3 linked regions of the Homo sapiens genome follow. The protein of the gene in region 2 interacts with the protein of the main gene of each other region in a pairwise test. Each region holds a gene or a part of one and is shown on either strand. Other genes may lie near its edges.

What was found. The genes of interacting proteins can lie anywhere in the genome.
Region 1: the proteins of CEP70 (region 2) and USP2 interact in binary tests that used the Homo sapiens proteins (3 or more experiments, as listed by UniProt).
Region 3: the proteins of CEP70 (region 2) and ELOA interact in binary tests that used the Homo sapiens proteins (3 or more experiments, as listed by UniProt).

Annotation. Positions count from the first base shown.
Region 1 is NC_000011.10:119,354,062-119,358,472, forward strand, and holds the end of USP2 (ubiquitin carboxyl-terminal hydrolase 2), read right to left. Parts: intron 4,192-4,411; coding exon 4,088-4,191; intron 4,001-4,087; coding exon 3,920-4,000; intron 3,775-3,919; coding exon 3,696-3,774; intron 3,530-3,695; coding exon 3,422-3,529; intron 3,247-3,421; coding exon 3,126-3,246; intron 2,862-3,125; coding exon 2,774-2,861; 3' UTR 1,154-2,773; downstream 1-1,153. UniProt on the Homo sapiens protein: Hydrolase that deubiquitinates polyubiquitinated target proteins such as MDM2, MDM4 and CCND1. Isoform 1 and isoform 4 possess both ubiquitin-specific peptidase and isopeptidase activities.
Region 2 is NC_000003.12:138,499,719-138,508,332, forward strand, and holds part of CEP70 (centrosomal protein of 70 kDa), read right to left. Parts: intron 5,748-8,614; coding exon 5,577-5,747; intron 4,160-5,576; coding exon of another isoform or gene 4,118-4,159; exon of another isoform or gene 1,532-4,117; intron 1,164-1,531; coding exon 1,017-1,163; intron 850-1,016; coding exon 681-849; intron 507-680; coding exon 392-506; coding exon of another isoform or gene 379-391; exon of another isoform or gene 166-378; intron 1-165.
Region 3 is NC_000001.11:23,745,689-23,754,123, reverse strand, and holds part of ELOA (elongin-A), read right to left. Parts: intron 5,104-8,435; coding exon 5,047-5,103; intron 4,283-5,046; coding exon 4,176-4,282; intron 3,280-4,175; coding exon 2,094-3,279; intron 1,718-2,093; coding exon 1,606-1,717; intron 25-1,605; coding exon 1-24. UniProt on the Homo sapiens protein: SIII, also known as elongin, is a general transcription elongation factor that increases the RNA polymerase II transcription elongation past template-encoded arresting sites.

The DNA of each region.
Region 1 (4,411 bases), on a different chromosome or scaffold from region 2:
TCGAGACCAGCCTGACCAACATGGAGACACCCCCGTCTCTACTAAAAATAGAAAAATAGCTGGTCGTGGTGGCGTATGCCTGTAATCCCAGCTACTGGGAGGCTGAGGCAGGAGAATCGCTTGAACCCAGGAGATGGAGGTTGCAGTGAGCTGAGATCATGCCATTGCGCTCCAGCCTGGGCAACAAGAGTGAAACTCTGTCTCAAAAAAAAAAAAAAAAAAAAAAAAAGACTAAGCCCTGGTCACTCCACATCCAGGTAATGATACTCTGCTCTAAGAGCAAGTTTTGCTATATTTGACATCTGCTGGAGAGATGTATTTTATCTTATCATAGGTCTGTGAAAACACCCAAGTGTTTCTTTTTTCATAGAGACAGGGTCTCACTATGTTGCCCAGGCTGGTCTCAAACTCCTGGCCTTAAGCCATCCTCTCACTTCAACTTCTTGAATTACTGGTGTGAGCCACCATGCCCAGCCCCAAGAGTTTCAACCAAGAATTAAGAGAGTAGCCCATACCAGCATTAAAAAGTAGACAGTTCATTAAAAAAAAAAATGGACATGTGAAAACCATGTCACATAGGAGAATGTCCTGATTCTTAGGAGATGTATGCTCAAGTATTTAGAAGTGGTGATATAACACCTCACCTGAAAATGTTTCGGCAGACAGAATAAAGTACAGTTGACCTTTGAACAATGCGGGCTTGAACTGTGTGGGTCCACTTTCACGTGGATTTTTTCAACCAAATAAGGATAGAAAATACTGCATTTGTAAGATGCAAAACCCACATATATAGAAGGCTGATTTTCATATACGCAGGTTCTGCAGGGGTGACCTTGGGACTTGAATATGGTGCAGATTTTGGTATGTGTGTATCTTGGAACCAATCTCCCTGTGTATACTGGGGGATGGCTGTATATTTAAATGTGTTTGTAAACAATTGGTGAATCCAGATGAAGAATATAGTGTCCAAAATATGTATTGTTTCAGTTTTTAAAAAATTAAACTTAAATGTTCAAACTAAAAAGTGGGTAACTTTTTCCAGAAACTTGGAATTTACAAACTGGTTGAAACAATGAAATAGATGGCCCCTAATATACTAGGAGCCCTTCCTAGATTCAAACACTCCCAAATCAAGATTCCAACATCTGCCAACTGATTTCTCAAAGCTATTATTTATTCTGTACAAGGTTCCACTGTACATTAGACATTCTTCTACTCTTGCTTACACAGTAAACAAGTGTACACTTGCCCTTGGGCTCAGGTTCACAGGTCTTCTCTGGAGAAGGGTGTCAGGCCAGTAAAACTCAGGGTGTCTTTCTCTGATGCCTCCTCCTAGGAGCCTGGAATGTGCCAGGCTCCACGGGGCACAAGCCGGGCCCAGCTGTGTGGGTGAACAGCTTTACTCTCCAGGACAGCACAGAGTTTTATCCAACTATGTAGGGCAAAATTGAGCCCACAGGAAAGAACCATACAACTGAGGCAAGATGTCCCCAAATACCCAGGCTCCAGCTCCCAGGGCAGGACTGGAGACCAGCGCTAAGAAGAGCTGAGGGGTGGCCTGGGCATCCCTGAGAAACTCGGTCCAAAGGGCCTATTGTCTAGGAGGCTCTGAGAAGGGGGCGGGGGCAGGAAGGCCAGGGGGAAAGGGATGTTAAGAGAATAAATAAAAGGGAGAGAAGCTCTAGGGACGAGGGGCTTGTGCTATCCTTCAAACAGCTGGGGAGCAGACCAGGGGTGGGCTAGAGGACGTGGGCGGGAAGAACTTGATGCCCTGTCGGAAGGAATCTACCTGCTTTCTTCTTTGCCTCACTGCAATGCACAACGAGCCAGGGCTAAGGGCAGGATCCCTTTCCCAGGCGGGTTTGAACAGAGCACTGGGGAAAAGGGAAGAGGCTGAGGGATATTTCAGGAGGGGCAGTTACCCCCTGGTCCCCAAATGCTATAAGGCACAATTCTTGGAGGCAACTAAATTCCATTCAAAACATTAAAAAAAAAAAAAAAAAACCCAAACCCCCAAAACAGAAACTTGTTTTAGATCCCAGGTCTACTGTGGCTGTGCTTGGGGCCTGGCCAACGCCCACCTAGCACCACGGAGGGCTAGCATTAGAAAGTTGTACTTGGAAAAGCAATAAAAGGACCAGTGCAACGTCCCAGCTATGAAGAGGCCTGAAGGAGAGCACTCCAGTCTGAACACTTTAGTTATGGAAATTAAAAAAAAAAAGTTGGGCTTTTTAAAAACCAAAACCAGCGTTTTCCAAAGATGTCCCTTCGTCTGTCCCCTGGAGTTAGCAGCGTGAAGAGGGCTCTTGGCTCATGGCTCTGGACCGGCGAGCCGTGCGGGTGGAGATGGGCGCCGGCTCCTCCGCGGCGCGGGCGTCCAGGCGGTGATGCTCCCAGCGAGCTCCAGAGGGCGCTGTCCCCTCGGAGGCGCGGGCGCTGCGGCGGGAAGCGGCGCAGCGAGGGTCTTCCCCCCCAAGACACAGTTGTTTCTGACACATAGGAAGACCACAAGTTTACAAATGCAAACGCCGAGGGCACGGGGCGATGCTGGCTCCACGTCCAGGCGATCTTCCCTGCCGGGCCACAGCTCAGGAAAGCCCGGCTCCTTGCTCCAGACCCTGATCAGGCTGCATCCACTCCTGCTCGGCAGCTTCAGGTTTGTTTTTCTCTTGTCAGGTTTGTGTGTTGTTGTTGTTGTTTTGTTTTTGTCTTTTTAAAAAATTTAGGGAGCGGGGCCACCACGGGGAAGGGAGAAGGGACGTGGCTCCTGGCGCTACATTCGGGAGGGCGGGCTGGCCAGTTCGTAGAAGAGCAGGTAGGCGTCGCTGGTGCGCACTTGGCTGGAGGACATGGGAGTGACGCTGCGGAGAGAGCGGGGAGTCAGCCCGGAGCGGGCAGGACCGGGAGACCCCCCGCCGGCTTCTTTCTGTGCCCCCGAGGCCGGCCGGCCTGCCTTTCAGGGAGCCTCCCCACGGGCAGCGGCTTCGTGGCCTTAAACTTTGCCATCCATTCTCGGTGTAAGCCGTGCGGGGGGTGGGAGGGGGGTGGGTTTGGGGGGAGGGTGGAGGAGTGGGGGGAGAGTGGGTGGCTACAGCCAGGGGCTCCGGCCCTGCCCTGGCTCTCACCTGGAGTCGTTGAAAGTGTGCCATTCTCCTGTCCCTGGACTGCGACAGTAGGCTGTATAGTGGCCACCCATGGTGGTTCCGGAGTGATTGGACACAGCGTACAGGTTGTAAACAGCATGGTCTGAGGAGGAGGCAGCCGTCAAGCCCCCGAGGCCCCCCTGCCCCGACTTCCCCCCTCCAACCTCTCCTTCTGGGTCTCTCAGTAGCTGGTGCTGGCAGCTCCCCTTCCTCCTGCCCTCCCTCCGGCCTTGCACACCTGCGTCTTCATTCTGCCCTGCCTACTCAAAGATACTCACTGGTGTTTTCTGAGGCAAATTCTCTTAAGTCCAGGTCTCTTAGGGGGAAGTTCACAAATGTTGTGAGCTTGCTGGTTCGGATCCTGGATTCTGAGAACCGCTTCAGATCTGGCATTGACGTGAGTCAAGGATAGTCAAACCAATGCAGAAGGGCAGACAACAAAAGGAAAGCCTACAAGGTCCGTTTCTTCCGACTGTTCCCCTCACCTATGGGCCCCTTGTCATCAGTCACCCTTGAAAGTCATGTCCCAGCCCTGATGGATCTTAAGGATACGGAGCACCAAGATCTTTGGGAACCTCTGGATGGAGAACTTCTTTATACACCGTTTTCTGCCTCGGCAGCGACAGCATGTCTGAGAGACAAGACAAACAGAAAGAACTTGTGGGGAAGTCAGTGGGCCCCAATCCAGTCACTCCTCAACTGGATCTGCTGGTATCAGCCTCTTCCCAGTAGGTCCCACGGAAATTTGTTCTTGCTATTACCGAAGGGTGACTTACTGGCTTTTCATCTCCATCAAGCACATCCTCTTTGGTGAAGAGCCTCATGCAGTCCATTAATGTCACCTCAGGATAACCTCGCTGGGAAGGGGAAAAAAGCAAAGGTCAGAGGTCAACATGAAAGGACAGGAGAGGGAGTTCAACAAGGCGGGCAACTGGGGTGCATACCTTAGCAATGGGCAGTGAGAGGTCCCAGAAGGGGTCGAAGACCGTAGAACAGTAACCACAATCTGTACACGTCAGCGAGCTCTTTAGCTGCCCAACAAAGAGATCTGGGGAAGAGAAGGCCATGAGATGCTGAAATACAGGAAGTAGAGCATGGTCTTCTGCACAGCAGCTTTTATTTTTTTTTTTGAGATGGAGTTTTGCTCTGTCCCCCAGGCTGAAGTGCAGTGGTGCAATCTCAGCTCACAACAACCTCTGCCTCCTGGGTTCAGTGATTCTCCTGCCTCAGCCTCCCAAGTAGCTGGGATTACAGGTGCCCACCACCAT
Region 2 (8,614 bases):
TTGAGCCCAGGAATTTGAGACTGGTCTGGGCAACATGGTGCAACCTTGTCTCTATCTCTCTCTCTACACACACACACACACACACACAAATTAGCTGGGCGTGGTGGCGTGTGCTTACAGTCACACACACACACAAAAGATGCTATTCCAAACAGGGAAGGTAAATAAGTTTTGAAAGTCTTTAATTTCACCCCTCCAGGAACTCTCGATAATACTTATTTTAATTTTTATTGTTTAGAGACAGGGTCTCACTGCCTTGCTCAGACTGGACTTAAACTCCTGGGTTCAAGTGATCCTCCCACATCAGCCTCCCAAGTAGCTGGGACTACAGGCGTGTGCCACCACACCCAGCCATTCTGGATGATACTTTGTAAACTTTTAAAACAAATACCTCTGGAGGTCTTCAGGTCCTAATACCTGCATAACCTGCTCATTCACATCTTCATTAATCAGCCTACAGAGTTTTCCAACAGTGCTTACTAGCACACACAATGAGGATGAACTATCTGCAAAAGAGAAATAAAAGGATATTTTAACAGAGAATTTCCAAAATTACATACATCAAACATTTTATGCTTCAGTTATCCTCAATTTTTCACTTAAACATTTTTTAATCTACTTTTTGTTAATTTATTAAAAATTCTTAAATGGGGGCCCAAAATGACAAATTAGGTCATCACCTAATTCTAAGAGTTCTTGGAGGTTTCTCACAGCATTGTTCATTTCTCCAAGCCTAGTATAAACTTCATTCATTCGGGGATAGACTCCATTTAAAGAAGGCACATCAAATAACTTTTGGAAGTGAGAAACAATAGCTTGCAAAGTTTGAAAGTGTGGCATATTGCTGTCCTGTCCAAAAAAGAGGTAAAAAAGAAAGAGTTCATTATCTTAAAATAATCCCAAATAAAAACTTTTAAAAGACAAATAGAACTCTAGTAGAACAAATATCAATATCCACAATTTATCAGTTTTTGAGATAAGAAACATTAGAAGGTGACCGTTCATGTAGGTATTACCTTTTCCTTATTTTCAACTTCTTCCAGCATAGTATCTACTATAAACAACAAATCTTCAACTTTGATACCTTCATTTTCATCCTGCTTCTTCAAATTAAGCCAAGGTACCAGTTCTGCAGATAGTGTTTTCAAGGACTTATACAAATCCTTTATAACAAAAGAAACTATATGGTATTATTGATTTAAATAATTTCTATAGTAACATAATAGAACATAATTAGTAAAATTATAAGTTTTATATATTATATGTTTTATAAAATTAATAAAACATAATTACACAGGTTAAAAAAATATATATGTAACCATCATTTTTTTTAAATAAAAATACTACTACCAATTTAGAACAAGTCAGTTAAAATTAGGTTTCTCCAGGTAAACACAGGCTTTACAGAAAACATTATATATTGATTATTCTGAATCTGAGTGCTCTAAGTAATTTTATGTTATTTATTATTGTTCCATAATATTTCATTATTTTGAATTGTTGATACACAAAGAATAAACTTGCCCTTGAATTTTGGTTTTGAATATGTTATATAACAGCTTTATTGAGATGTAATTCATATACCATAAAATTTACCCTAAGTATACAATTCAGTAGTTTTAATATTTTCACACATGTACAAACATCAGCACTATCCAATTTCAGAACATATTCATTACTCCAAAAAGAAATCTCAGACCCACTAAGAGTCCTTCCTTCCCCATTTTCCCTTCCCTGCAGCTCCTAGGGTTAATCTCTAAACTATTTTCTGTTTCTATGGATTTGCCTATTCTAGGCATTTTGCATAAAGGGAATTATACAATAAGTAGTCTTTTATGAATGACGTCTCTCACTTAGCATAATGTTTTTAAGATTTATCCATGTTATAACATGTATCTCCAGGCAAGTTTTTAATGTGAAAGGTTCCCTAAATGTATTCTACATTATAATACTCCACTTAGTTTTCTTGGCCTAGTTGTGGTGCCCTAATTGATTTTAAACTGTGCACAATGGGCAAGGCTACTGAAAGTTTAGAGCTCTAGACTGATCAATCGACAAATATTTAGAATTCCTAGTCCGAAAATCTGAAATGCTCCAAAATCTGAAACTCTGAGCAACAACAGGACACTCAAAAGAAATGCTCATTGGAGCATTCTGAATTTCGGATTTTTGGATCAGTGATGCTCAAATGGCATATATTCTGCAAATACTCCAAAATCTGAAAAAATTCTTAATCAAAATACTTCTAGGCCCAAGCACTGTGGATAAGGGATACTCAATCCATATGTGTATGGCACAGCGCTTGGTCCTTTAGAACAACGCTGTCCAAAAGAAATGTAATGTGAGCCACAGTAATTTTAAGTTGTCTAGGGCCATAGTATGGAAAGTGAAAAGAAACATGTGATATTAACTGTACTAGTATATTTTATTTAACCCAATATATCCAAAATATTATCATTTCAATATAAAATCAATTATTTTAATTTTTCCCATACAAAGTCTTCTAAATCCAGTGTATATTTTACACTTATAACACATCTGAATTAGGACTAGCCACCTTTCAAGTGATCAATAACCACATGCAGCTAGAGGCTACCATACTAGACAGCACAGCTCTAGAGAACAGAAAGAAGTACAAGAAGTTCCTCCTTTTTCTAACTTATTTTAGTACTTCACTTGACACTCTCCACTTAAGGCTCAGACTTCACATATTGGTATCTTTAACCTTTCAATTGGTAGGAAGGCAGTTACTATTTTAGTAATTCATAGCAATAAATTCCATGTCAAATGAATGTTTTACAATCAATGCCACTAGAATTTGAAAAAAAAAAAAGTCAGCAAGTAACAGCATAATGATACCTTTATTAACCAATGCTCCAGGAACAAGGCACATTTATAAAGTAATCTATGGTAAAAAGCATACCCAATCTAATACATTTTTGCTTCAGAATAAAAGAGTATTACAAAGCTAAGAAGAAAAGATGTTCTGGTCTCCTAAGCAGTGACAGGATGGTTGTAGCACAGTCCATCAAGTAAGCTCTGAAAAATATAAGAGGGTCTCCTAGGTTCTTTACATTGCCCAGTTGTGGAGATGTAGAAGTACTACCATGAGCCAGCCTACCGTGTACGTCTGGCCTCTGAAGCACTGGAGAATAGCAAAGCAAAAGTATTCAAGAGTGTACTGGGTTGGGGAAAGCTACAACATCTGTAGTTCACCTTTCTTGGAAAGGCAGGAGGGAAAAGACACAAGGCTGGAGGCAGCTGGCTCCATGTCTTTCCCAGCCTTCTTTTCTTCCAATTTTTAAAACTAGTAAAATACCCATAAAATTCACCATCTTAACAATTTTTAAATGTAAGTTCAGTGTTAATATGTTCATAATGTTGTGCAACCAACATCACCATCCATCTCCATAATTCTTTTCATCTTGTAACACTGAAACTTTATACCCATTAAACAATAACTTCCCATTTCCCTCCTCCCTCTAGCCATCACCACTCTACTTTGTCTCTATGATTTTCACTAAGTATCTCATACAAGTGGAATCATATAAGTGGAATCTTCTTGTGACTGACTTATTTCACTTAGCATAATGTCCTCATAATGTTCACCCATGTTGCAAGGGTCAGAATTTCTTTCCTTTTAATGGCTGAATAATATTGCAATATATGTATATACCACATTTTGCTTATCCATTCATCCCTCAAACCTATCTTACTCTTTAAAGCCAAATTTAACCTGAGGGAAAAAACTAATCTGGGAAGATGGTTGTCCCAAACTTAGAGGTTGCTACATATCAAATAACCTTTGATATGAGGCCTCAGAGAATCTCATGTAGTTTCTTAATTTGGACCCTGAAACTGTAGTATTAATATCTGAAGCACTGCTCAAAATCCATGAGTTACTCCAATGGCAGAAGTAACTAATTCTTAATAATTTCTTCTTGGGTGTCCTCAGAATATTCTAATTATAAAGCGAATTCCTTGCCTCCTCCTCCTCCTCAGAAAACCATACAATAGCAAGAACTCACCACCATGGCAAAGCCCTTCTTGGGGGCTACAATCAGAGTGTTCTCTTTCTCCTCCAGACTCTAGAGCACAAGTTATCTGCATCATTCACTCAGAACTTCAACCGGTAATCTATTTTTATGTCACTCATTTCCTTTAACGATATAAATGATTACATTTTGTTTCATATTTTTTAGTATATTTTGTCTAATTAGTCTGAATCTTGTGTTCATCCCATAATGGCTTAGCATGATAAACGATCAATAACTATCCATTAGTGTGATTCTTCCCTTTGTCTTCTTCCTCTTCTAGTCTTTTCTTCTAGGAAGGCTAGGGCTTTTTCTAGTCCATCCCTTCTGAGATGAAGAAAGGTGGAGTCAGCACTGTTTCCTCCTACTGGGAGAACCCTCTGACAGGCAGTGATTGAGGAAATACCATGATTTACACTATTACTAATTATTTTACACTCTTCTGAGATACAGACTGGAGGAACTCCGGTCTATAAAGTAAGTATATTAATCTAGCACTGTCACTCAATCAAAATGTTTATGTATTGTATAGCTCTGTCTGAGCCCTATATAAAAAGGGAAGTCGAAATTTAAAAAAAATTAACATCACCACCCCCAATTTTGTTGTCTTGGAATATAATATTCTGCTTCATTCCTTTTAACAAATATTAATTGAGCACTCATTCATCAGGAGGATCTTGGGGACATATCAGAACAAATAAAAACACTGTCTTCATGGAGCTTATACATTCTTAACAGATATCTTCTGCATCATTTGTACTTCATGTAATAAGACTTATGTTGCAAACACTGTTATTGAATCACATTTTCATTAACAGGCATATGCTATGTATTATATTAGTTACTAATAAATCTAAAGTGTAAAGGGCAAAGAAGTTAAATACTACTGATTTCAACTATTTACCTTTCAGCAAACTAGTTAACAAAAACTGAAAAAACCTGAAGCTATGCAATAAATACACAATAACTCTATAAATAAAATGTGGTCTTCCATGAAGAGATAGGATAGGGAAGGGTAGCGTTGGCTGCTAGCTTACTATCTGTTCTAGAGAATAAGCAGAAATGGAGATAAGCTCAGTTCTGAGAGACAGAAAATAAAGTGTGAAGAGAGAGAAAATATCCCCAATTATAATAAAATGAAGGATAAGACATTATATCTGAAGAGGGATAAGGGCCAGGAAAATCGCAGCATGGAGATATGAAAAGGAGGCAGATGAAGGTAGAACAGGGAAGGGCCTAGAAGTACAAAGTGGATCCACTATAGATTTTCAATAAGGAAACTAACCCCAAAATTTCTTGTTTGGTAGAATCTTAGAGGAGGTAAAGCTTACAGTAATGACAACATCAAATAGACAGTACCTAAAATAGATATGTAAGTAGGAAGATTTCGGTTTTAGATAATAAGCTTTTTTAGCTTTAGAGTTAACACACAAACAAAAAAATTAAACCCTATTTAATTTTTAGCCCTGAATTAAGTCCTATTAATAAAGCACATAGAGTCCAATAGATGTTCAAAGCATATAATCATAGTCAACCCCTTACCTTTAAGGATGTCAGTTGATCTGCCCACATTTCTATTACAGGAACAAGATGCTCAAATCCACAATCTTGAACAAGATCTTTATTAAAATTTTGGACTCCCCCTTTGGTCTGTTTATAAATTATTACTGGAGCTCTTGGATTGTGGATAATTGAATTGATGCTACACAGCACCTTTAAAAAAACATAGTGTATATAGTCAAAATATTTATCCTATGCCTACAAAGTTATATATTTTAAAGGAGTGCTTTATGTCTATATATATTATATACACATATTTCATTAAATATACAAAGAAAATTATCATAAGGAATTGGCTCATGCAATTATGAAGACTGACAAGTCCCAAGATCTGCAGTGAGTAAGCGAAGACCCAGAAAAGGTAATGGGTATTTGCAGTCCAAATGCAGGCAGACTGAGACCCCTGCAAGTGCTAATGTTTCAGTTTGAGTCTGAAGGCAAGAAAAAAACCAGTGTCCCATCTTGAAAGCAGTCAGGGAGGAGGAGCTCCCTCTTATTCAGCCTTTTGTTCTACTCAGGGCTTTGAATCATTGGATGAGGCCCACCCCATTAGGAAAGGCAGTCTGATTTACTAAAGTCTACTGATTCGGATGTCAATCTCATCCAGAAGCACCTTCCCAGACACATCCAGAATAATGTTTAACCAAATATCGGGCATCCTATGCCGCAGTAAAGTTGAAACAAAATTAACTATTACAAACACTACCTAGGTTCAAAAATTGTTAGTATTTTGCCATATTTGCTCACTATCTATATTTTTAGGTGAACCATTTGAAGAAACTCTTCACCCTCAAATAATAAAGCATGCATCTTTTAAAAGTAGGCATATTCTCCTACAAACTCACAAGAACATTATCAGACTATTTAAGGAAATTAACAGCAATCCCCAGGCTGAGTGTGGTGGCTCATGCCTGTAATCCCAGCACTTTGGGAGGTTGAGGCAGGAGGATCACTTGAGCCCAGGAATTCAAGGCTGCAGTGAGCTATGATAATGCACTTCAGCCTGGGCAACAGAGCAAGACCCTGTCTCCAAAAATAATATCATTGATGCCTGGATTGAATTTTAGGTATCTTAATATATTAAGATAGTATACTATTTGACTATAACCCTCTCCCCATAAGTGATGGGTTCTACCTTACATATCATCCGAGGAAAAAAAGGGAGACCTCAAAAAGCATGTTTAAAGAGAGAAGAATAAAGCCATTTCCTATTACCACCATCAAGTTCAGCCTATTTAATAAAAAGTTTCACAATATAAAGATAGCATTTTGCTCTTGAATCTTTGTCCCTGGTCATACTTCAAGATATAACTAATAGGCCTCCTGGTAATATGACTTAAGATGTTTATTACTTCAGATGTTTATTTAGAAGCTTTTTAAGTCCAAATTAGTATAATTCAATATTTCACTTCAAATTGATGTATGTATATTTGTTTTATATATTTATTTGACAGAGTCTCACTCTGCAGCCTAAGATGGAGTGCAGTGGTGTGAACGGAGCTCACTGCAGCGTTGAATTCCTGGGCTCAAGTGATCTTCCCATGTCAACCTCTCAAGTGCTAGGACTACAGGCACAAGCCACCATGCCCAGCTAATTAAATTTTTTTTTTTCTAGAGATGTGGTCTCACTATATTGCCCAGGCTGGTCTCAAACTCCTGCCCTCTAGCAATCCTCCTGCCTCGGTCACCCAAAGTGTTAAGATTACAGGCATGAGCCACCATACCCGGCTTGAATTCCCCTTTTAAAGGACAAAGCCTCTCAAATTGAGTCTCAGAAACAAAATGAAATCCAGTTATATACTGGTACAAGAAAGTCTAAAACAAAACAGTTTTCAGAAAGGTGCTTGGTTCCCATTTACAATAGCAATAAAAGTTATAAAATACCTAGGAAATAACAAGGTATTTCCTAACAAGAAATATGCAAGAGCTAAATTTAAAAATACACAACACTTTATTGAAGACTATAAAAGATGACCCTGATGAAAGTACATATTTCTGAATGTGATGATTCAAAAAGGTTAAGGTGTCATTTCTCCAAATATTAATCTATAAAGTCAATTCAATTTTAGTTCATCTCAATGAGATTTATTTTTTAATTTGAAAAACTGTTCATCCAGAAGAATAAATGTGCTAAAAATATAGCCAATAAAAAAAATTTTTTTAATGATAGGATACTTGCCTCAAAGGCTATTAAAACTTTTAACTATAGAAATTAAAATATGGAAATAGTTGAGAAATGCAACAGACTAGAGAATCTAAAAACAAATCTGTGCATATAAATGAATATGATCTATGATAAAATGTTATTTCAATAAAGTAGAGAAAAAAGTAGCGTATTAGAGACTGCAAACACAAATGCCCAGAGAATTCAGGTACGAGTATAAATGAGTGACGTAAGGATGAATAGGGACTGCTAACTATAGAACACATGCTCATATCTGACAAGGGAAAGGCCTAATTCTGCTGTGATAATAACCATGCAGGAATTTGTTGCCAGATCTTCTGACTTTTTAGGAGAAGTTAGAAATAGCAGCCTAGAAAAAATAAAATATCTTAATTTTTAAAAAAATGAATAATCTAAAACTTAAAAATCTTATGTGTACCCAATAAAATGTGAGTGAAAGTCCAGTTCAGTCACTAAACTACCAGGTTTAACTGCTCAGCTATTCAATAAATGATCTATAAAACTAGGAAGGTGAGATTCCCTATATCACACCATATAGAAAATTAAATTTCAGATGAACTAAGGTCTCTAAACAAAAACAAAAGCCATACAAGGACCCTAAGAAAATAGATTTACTTAATAATAATGGTAACAACAGAAACAATACGAGGGAAAATGGCTTACATGGGGAAAGTAGGGAAAAGGATTATAGAAACTTTTAAAAATCATAAAGCTCTTTACTAACCTCCTTTGAACTAGGCCAGAGTCTCTTTTAAGTAGTAAGACGAATTCTACAATGTTTTTAGTCAAATAGTTATGTCACGGAAAGACAAGACAGAATAAGTACACATAAATA
Region 3 (8,435 bases), on a different chromosome or scaffold from region 2:
CTTCTTCCTGGGGTGAAGAGAACGCTATAGGGCAAGAAAAACACAAAAGGCCCTAAGTGATCCAGTGAAAACTCTCCTTCTACCCCCTTCAGCCTCCTACTTCCCTTTCCCAATGGCAATCCACGCTACAGATTTTTGTAGATCCTTCCAGAGAATTTAAAAATAAGCTCCTGTAATCCCAGCACTTTAGGAGGCCAAGGCACATGAATCATCTGAGGTCAAGAGTTCGAGATCAGCCTGCCCAACATGCACCTGTAGTCCCAGCTACTCAGGAGGCTGAGGCAGAGGAATTGCTTGAACCTAGGAGGTGGAGGCTGCAGTGAGCCAAGATGGAGCTACTGCACTCCAGCCTGAGTAACACAGCAAGACTCTCAACAGCAACAACAAAAAAAAGCAAATGTATCTTATTCCTTTTAAGCCAATGAATCAATTAATAACATACTCACTACATACATTGCTTTTTTTCATTTGCCACATCTGAGAGATCATTCCATGTCAGTGCATAGACTTTCCACATTTTTTTTTTACTGTGGCATAGGATGCCACTGTGTAGATGAACCATGATTTATCTGTTAGTCTCCTGCTGATAGACCCTTATGTGGCTTCTACTTCTTTTGCTATGAAAATTAGACATTTTTTTCTTTCAGACAAAAATCCTATGTAACACATAGGATAAAGGGCTGCTAATAACAGCAGCAGCAATTTACTGAACAATTACTATGTGATAAACCCAGAGCAAAAAGGCATCACTTCTGAATTCATTAAACTGAGCCCTATGGGGCAGATACCATTATAACTCCCATTTACACAATATATACAACTAAGGTCCAAAGAAATTAAGATATTTCTCAAGGTCATATAACTTGCAGAAACCAGAGTTGGGATTCAAACCCAAGCCATCAAACTTCAGAGTCTATGCACTTAGGAAATGCATCAAAAATCTGATGTTATGGTGATAGTTTTTTTGTTTGTTTTTGAAACAGTCTTGCTCTGTCACCCAAGCTAGAGTGCAGTGATGCAATCAGAGCTCACTGCAGCCTTGAACTCCTGGGCTCAAGTGATACTCCCACCTCAGCCTACCGAGTACCTGGGATGTGCCACCATGCCTGGCTACTTTTTTTCTCTTGTAGAGACAGCATCTTGCTGTGTTGACCAGGGTGGTTTAGAACTCCTTTTTTTTGAAATAGAGTTTCCCTCTTGTCACCCAGGCTTGAGTGCAATGGCGTAATCTCGGCCCACTGCAACCTCCACCTCCCAGGTTCAAGCAATTCTCCTGCCTCAGCCTCCGGAGTAGCTGGGATTACAGGCACGCACCACCATGCCTGGCTAATTTTTGTATTTTTAGTAGAGACAGGGTTTCACCATGTTGGCCAGGCTAATCTCGAACTTCTTACCTAAGGTGATCTGCCCGCCTCGGCCTCCCAAAGTGCTGGGATTACAGGAGTGAGCCACCACGCCTGGTTGGTTTAGAACCCTTGGCCGCAAGCAATCCTCTTACCTCGGCCTCCCAAAGTGCTGGAATTATAGGTGTGAGCCACTGTACCCTGCCTTGAATGAATTTTTAAATCTTTTTCCCATTAAGAAAAAGAAGATATAGAAAATTACCTTTTCGCTTTGGCTGGAAGGAGGATATCAGCTCGAGGGAAGGCAGTGGACGGTAATTGGCCTGTATCGCGGGTAACGGGAGGTCTGGCAACACTGGCAACACATCAGGCACCTGCAGGGGACAGACCCATGGGTGGAGAGTCAGTGAGTAGAAGCACAGCTCTCTTTCCTACAGTCTATTCCCGGGAGCATTAACTGGACATCTTGCACAGGAAGATCCAGGTTGGAGGGGGCCACAGTCATGTCTGACACCACCTCAGTCAGGAAATAAATACAGATGAGCCCATCACAAGAGAATAATGCAGAAAATTCTTATTTGCGGTACCATATACCCTGACAACCAGTGAAGCCCAGAGGAAATTACTGCACACTGAAATTCAACATGCCCCCCAAAAGCAAGCTAAGGAAAACAGTGGCAGGGCAATCCTCTGAGCTCTGCAGGGCCAGGTGCTCTGGGTGGGAAGCCACCAAGGGGCTGAAGGGGTTACCTTTCTCAGCTTGGCTAAATCAGCTCCAGCCGGCTTCTCTGACTTGGTTTTGTTCACCTTGGGTAATTTCTGAACTGAGTCCAAGTTTTTACCAGTGCTTTTAGAGTCATTTTTTTTAAGTCCTTTATCTCCAAGTGCCGTGGCTGAAGTTTTCACAATCTTTTTCTTTTTCTTCCGGGGCTGGTCATAGCTGAGGTAGGATTCAAAAGACATGGTTGGCTGCTCGAATTCATCCTCCATATCTGTCTCCTCAACTTTAGGGAGGGAGCCCAGTGACTTTCTATCCAAATTAGTTTTGACTTTCCCTTCTGGAGTCTTTAGGTTGTTAGAACCCTTCTCTTTTACCTTGGGCAACAGGTCTCCTGCTCCTTTTCCTGTGTCAAAGCTGTCCAGACCTTGCTTGCTTTTGTCCAATTTGGCTTTCTCTGGGTCTCTGTGCTTTGGCTTTTTCAGGTGGTTGTCTGAAGCGGCCTCTGAGGGAGGCAAACACTTCTTCTTCAGGCTGCTGCCCTCTCTGTCCTTCTCTTTCTTTACGCCACTAGAGGGCGGTTTCTCCCTTGCATTGTCCCCTGAGGGTGGCCTTCGGTTCTCCTCTTTGGAGAGGGCCTTGTGTGATTTCTCTCTGCTCACCACAGAGGCCTTCTCATCACTCTTGGCATCCACGGGGCGTTTGTCCTTGTGGGAAGATTTGTGCTCCTTGTTTTGACTCACAACCCCTTTCCCATGGGGTTCACCCAGGTGTCGTTCTTGGCTGGCCCCGAGTCTGTCCTGAAAGGCATTGCTGTGGCCTTTCCCAGGCTTCTGGTGTGAAACAATGGGCTCCTGGTCCTCCTCCAGGGATCTGTAGTGGTCGACGTACATCTGATGAGGACTGGTACAAGATGGAGGGGATTGAACATGGCCATAATCAGAAGACTCAGGGTCTGAAGAGTAAGTTGGTGACATTCTGTGACACCTCTTTCTCTCATCTCTCCTCTCATGACCGTGAGACACTTTGTGAGGTCTCTCGAGCTCCGAGAGTTTCCTATGTTTCTTCTGCCTGTGGTCAGGGCTATAGGATCGGCTCCCCGTGGCTTTCCAGGTTTCTTGGTAGTCCCCCTCCATCTCCTCCTCCTTCTGCAGGGCATCCCGAGGGCGCTTTCGGGAATTGCTCTTCTCAAAGTCCTGTTCATCAGGCTCAGCATTTCTAAAATAAAAGAAAAAGCAGACAAAGTAGGTCTAAATCTTGCTTCTTGAGGGACAAAGTCACAGAATCTGAACTCACCAAAGAAGTGAAGATGCAGAGTTAGAAACAACAAGGTCTTAAGAAGAAGATAAGTAGGTTATGCTTAAAGATACTCAAATCTTAAAACTGGGAAAACCCAAATGAGAAATGGTGAGTTTAACCACAAGATGCAAAGATCAAATATCTCATATACATGAAAATGTGGAGATTTATTAAAACATGGGGACATGTTTAATTTGTTATATAAAATGGGGGCTGCTCACTATTTATCTAGTTCACAACTTAAAAAAATGCCATTTAAGGAGCAGTTAGAAAGAAACATACCAGGCCAGCCGCGGTGGCTCACGCCTGTAATCCCAGCACTTTGGGAGGCCGAGGCGGGCAGATCACGAGGTCAGGAGATCAAAACCATCCTATCCTGGCTAATACGGCGAAACCCTGTCTCTACTAAAAATACAAAAAATTAGCCGGGCGTGGTGGCGGGTGCCTGTGGTCCCAGCTACTCAGGAGGCTGAGGCAGGAGAATGGCGTGAACCTGGGAGGCGGAGCTTGCAGTGAGCCGAGATCACGCCACTGCACTCCAGCCTGGGCAACAGAGCGAGACTCTGTCTCAAAAAAAAAAAAAAAAAAAAAAAGAAACGTACCAAAATGTTCATAACGTTTGTCTTTGCGTGATAGAAATAGGAAATTTTGATTTCTATTTTTAATATTTTCTAATATTCTACAATGATCATGGATTATTTTTTATAATTGAGGCAAAACAATTTCAGAAGGCAAAAGAGAAATAATAAAGAAAACCTTTTCTATCTGTAAATTTAACCATGAAATTGAACAAACCTAAAGAGAAATGTTCTTACCGTTCCACAGGAACCAGCTTCTTCCACTGGGCCACTAGGTCCCTGGCAAAGCTTCCAACATGCTCGTGTTTTCGCAAGCTATTTACTGTTTTCCCAACCCCAGTCTCCTAAAATTTGACAAAGTAATTGTTAGAGGGGTCTGGAACTAGGCTAACGTTTTTCTAAAGAAATAAGGCTTTCTACTTTGAGAAACTCAACAAGCAATACTTCCTTCCTACAACATACCCTGCAAATCTTAACACTAAATTACTTTGTGTCTATGCCCCAAATCTCTAATGACACACAGTAGCAAAGCGTACCAAGTTCAGAACTTTAATAACAAGAGTGATTAGGGCAGGTGTTAGGCACTAAGATAAGAGCTTTGCATACAGTTCTGAATCAGTCTTTACAATAACCCTGTGAAGCAGGAATCAGACCCATTTTACATAGGAACAGCCTAAAGTCATAGAACTCAGATTTGAATCTGGGACTAATTGATGCCAAAGTCAATGTTCTTTTAATTCTAATTTTGAAATAAAGTCATTTAACAATATTCACCACTTTAACTAAAGTACATAATTCAGTGGTTTCCAGAACATTCACAATATTATATAACCATTATAACCATCTAATTCCAGAACATTTACATTACCCTAAAAAGAAATCCTGTTCCTCCCAATTCTCCTAGCCCCTGGCAACCACTAATCTACTTTCTGTCTATGGATTTGCCTATTCTGGACATTTCATATAAATGGAATCAGACAATATATGGCCTTTTGTGTCTGGTTTCTTTCACTTCCAAAGCCCATACTTGTAACCTTATTCTACACACTCTCCAGTGAGAAGGGAATGGGATATCATTATATAATATTTAAAGTCACACAGTTCTTACCGCAAGAATGTCTACTGTAATAGGCAGGGTGGAGAGTTTCTTCAAATATTTCAATAGCTGCAGAGAAGAAAACATTAATTTCAATAGTCAAATTCACTTTAACAAGAATATCTGATTATTAAGTGCTTAGTGCTAACCATTTACAGTAATGAGTATAAGTATTATGCCTATTTACAGTAGTAAGTAATATCCCTATTTTACAAGTATGAAAATAGGCTCATAAAAGTTATGTTTCTTGTCCCAAGATGCAAGTGGGGCAAGATTCACTCAGGTCTGTGGCTTTAGATTCCCTGCTTTCAACCACTGTGCTACACCAAGGGGAAATAAGATGTAGAGAAGAGAATCAAAACTTACCAACTCTGATAAAAGCCATCAACAACTATCATTTTTGCCCTAGTTTTGATAGAATTTATGAGAAAGGTACCAATTTTAGGGGAATTACCCATGGACCTGGCACAGAGGAAGTAAAAGGAAGAAAAGGCCTCTACAGGAAAAGACCATCATGTTTCCAGAAGGGCCACAGTGTTTAACAGAATTGTTTTCTTCTACATAAGTGTAAAGCCAAGAGTAATTTCAAGTTGCCAGAATCAGAGCTTGGATGTTAACGGTGGACACAAAATGCCTGGGTAGATTAGAAAAGTGATCTGGGTTTGATCACATTTCCTTCCTATAGTTCCTAAAACTAGGTCAAAATCAGTACAGCAGAGCTGTTAAGATGGAGTTCTGGAGTCAGAGACAGGCTTGACAATCTGGCTTTGTCACTCGATGAGTGATCTTGAATAAGTCAAAAACCTCCCCAAACTTCAGTTACTTCATCTGCAAAATAGGAACTTGGTCCTGTCTCTACTTCACAAACTATGAGGATTCAGAGACAAACCATGTGCAGTCCTTAGTCATAGTGTCTAGAACACTATGAAAGCTCACTAAATACTTATCATTTCATTCATCGACTGACAGCTTTCAGCGTTCTGCCCTTGATCTTCAACCAGATATTCCTCAGCCAATTCCTACTTGCTCTAACAAAAGTTATGACTGGCCAAACCTTTCTCTAGGAAATGTCTACGTGTATCTAAACATACTTACCATACAAGGAGTGCTTCAAAATACAAGTAGTTTAAAATAGATAACTGTGGTTACCTTTGCATTTAAATATTATATAACAAGATCTGCTTTTACCATGTGTGGCCCAGACTATAATTGGTATGCCATATTGCTATTAGGTGGAGTAACAAGTCTGTTTTTCTGGTCATTCTACTTCAATCATTACTTAACATGGTCACCAGACAGAGCAATTGGATCACAAGTGATAATCTTGAGATCAAGTAAGAGGCCAAGTGGCATATCTAGGGAGTCTCACCTTCATAGATGAGTGAAAATTATCCCCCACTTCAAATCCTATCACCACCATCATCCAACTCAGGAAAAATTTTGTGTTTCTTGCCACCCAAGCTATGGGTGCAAAGACTAATGCCAATTCCTTCACTTAAAGGAAAATTTTAAATCACTGAAAAGGTCAAAAACAAGTGGTTCTCTCATAATGCCATTCCTTGGAAGGGGTAGGTTGGGAATATTCACATACCATCTATTGTGTGTCAGCTACTACACTAAGCTCTTACACGTTACCTCATTTCATTCCCACTAACCAACTCTATAAAGTGGATGTTATTCTCCCCATTTGACAGATATTGCAACTGAACCCAATCAGGTTAGGTAACTTGCTTAACAAGCTGGAAAGTCAAATGTGTCTACTACAGTTAAGTAAAGCCAGGAGAAGCATCCAACATCAGAACACTGTCCTTAGGAAATGAAAATAGAGCGGCAGCACATATACTTCTTAGCATACTTGCAAGAAAGCAGAAAAACTCCTCCTGTGATGTCATTAGACAGTTCAGAACCCACATAGTAAAGGAGGTCACCAAGGGAACAAAGGTGTCCCAGGACCTCTACAAAGCCAACATATAAGGATGAGGCTGGAAGTCACTGTGGGTGTGTTTATCTCAAAGCCTAGCACTAACTGGAAGAACAAATCCTGTCTTTCTGCTTTACTTTGGGTTATTAGGGGTGATTTAAAAGCAGACAAAACTAAAACCCTCAAGATTTTCAGACTCATTTAGTCTAACACAAGAGAAAAAAGGACTTCACAACCCCTCTATTTTCAGTAAATTTCAAGAAAGAACAAAGCAATAACAAGGCAAAGGCACATTGGGCATCCTCAGGTGGATCGAAACTTGCTGTTATCAAACAAGATACCAACTATAGAGCTTGTAAGAACTGGTAACAGGCAACTGAGAAATATCAAACATTTGCAAGGTACATGTTGAGGCATCTCAGTTGTCCCCTGTACAATCCTTCAACCCAAAAAAGCAAAAAATATTTTTAATGTCACCTGCCATCAAAATGTTCTTGGTAGCTTTCACAGTGAAAATGTAACACAGGACGAGGATCCTTTTTTTTTTTTTTTTTTTTTTTGGAGATGGAGTTTTGCTCTTGTTGTCCAGGCTGGAGTGCAATGGTGCCATCTCGGCTCACTGCAACCTCCGCCTCCTGGGTTCAAGAGATTCTCCTGTCTCAGCCTCCCGAGTAGCTGGGATTACAGGCACCACCACCATGACCAACTAATTTTTTTATTTTTAGTAGAGATGGGGTTTCATCATGTTGGCCAGGCTGGTCTCGAACTCTTGACCTCAGATGATCCGCCCCTCTTGGCCTCCCAAAGTGCTGTGATTACAAGCGTGAGCCACTGCGCCCGGCCAACTGTGTGTGTGTGTTTTTTTTGTTTTTTTTTTTTTGAGACGGAGTTTCGCTCTTGTTGCCCAGGCTGGAGTGCAATGGCGCGATCTCAGCTCGCTGCAACCTCTGCCTCCCGGGTTCGAGTGTTCTCCTGCCTCAGCCTCCCGAGCAGCTGGGATTACAGGCGCCTGCCACCACACCTGGCTAATTTTCGTACTTTTAGTAGAGAAGGGGTTTCACCATGTTGGCCAGGCTGGTCTCGAACTCCTGATCTCAGGTGATCTACTCACCTCGGCCTCCCAAAGTGCTGGGATTACAGGTGTGAGGCACTGCACTCGGCCTAAGGACAGGTAATTTTTATCAGCCATGAACTATGAAACATAAAAACAGAAACCAAGTGGTCCTAGGCTGCTGATACCTTCTCCCTTAAGTGAGCCAAGATAACAGATGAAAAAGTGAAAACAGAGTTACAGCAATGTCTAGTACCAAAAAATCCATGAACACAGGTGTGGAATCAAACCCTTGGCTAATAATGGTTTGAAAGCAAGATCTGGTTGTAAATTCAACAGGGCTATATAATCATCTTGCAATTTCACATACAACCTGTAGGAGCTTGTTAGGTTACCAGAAGGTTGAGAGGAACAAGGCCAACATGACAG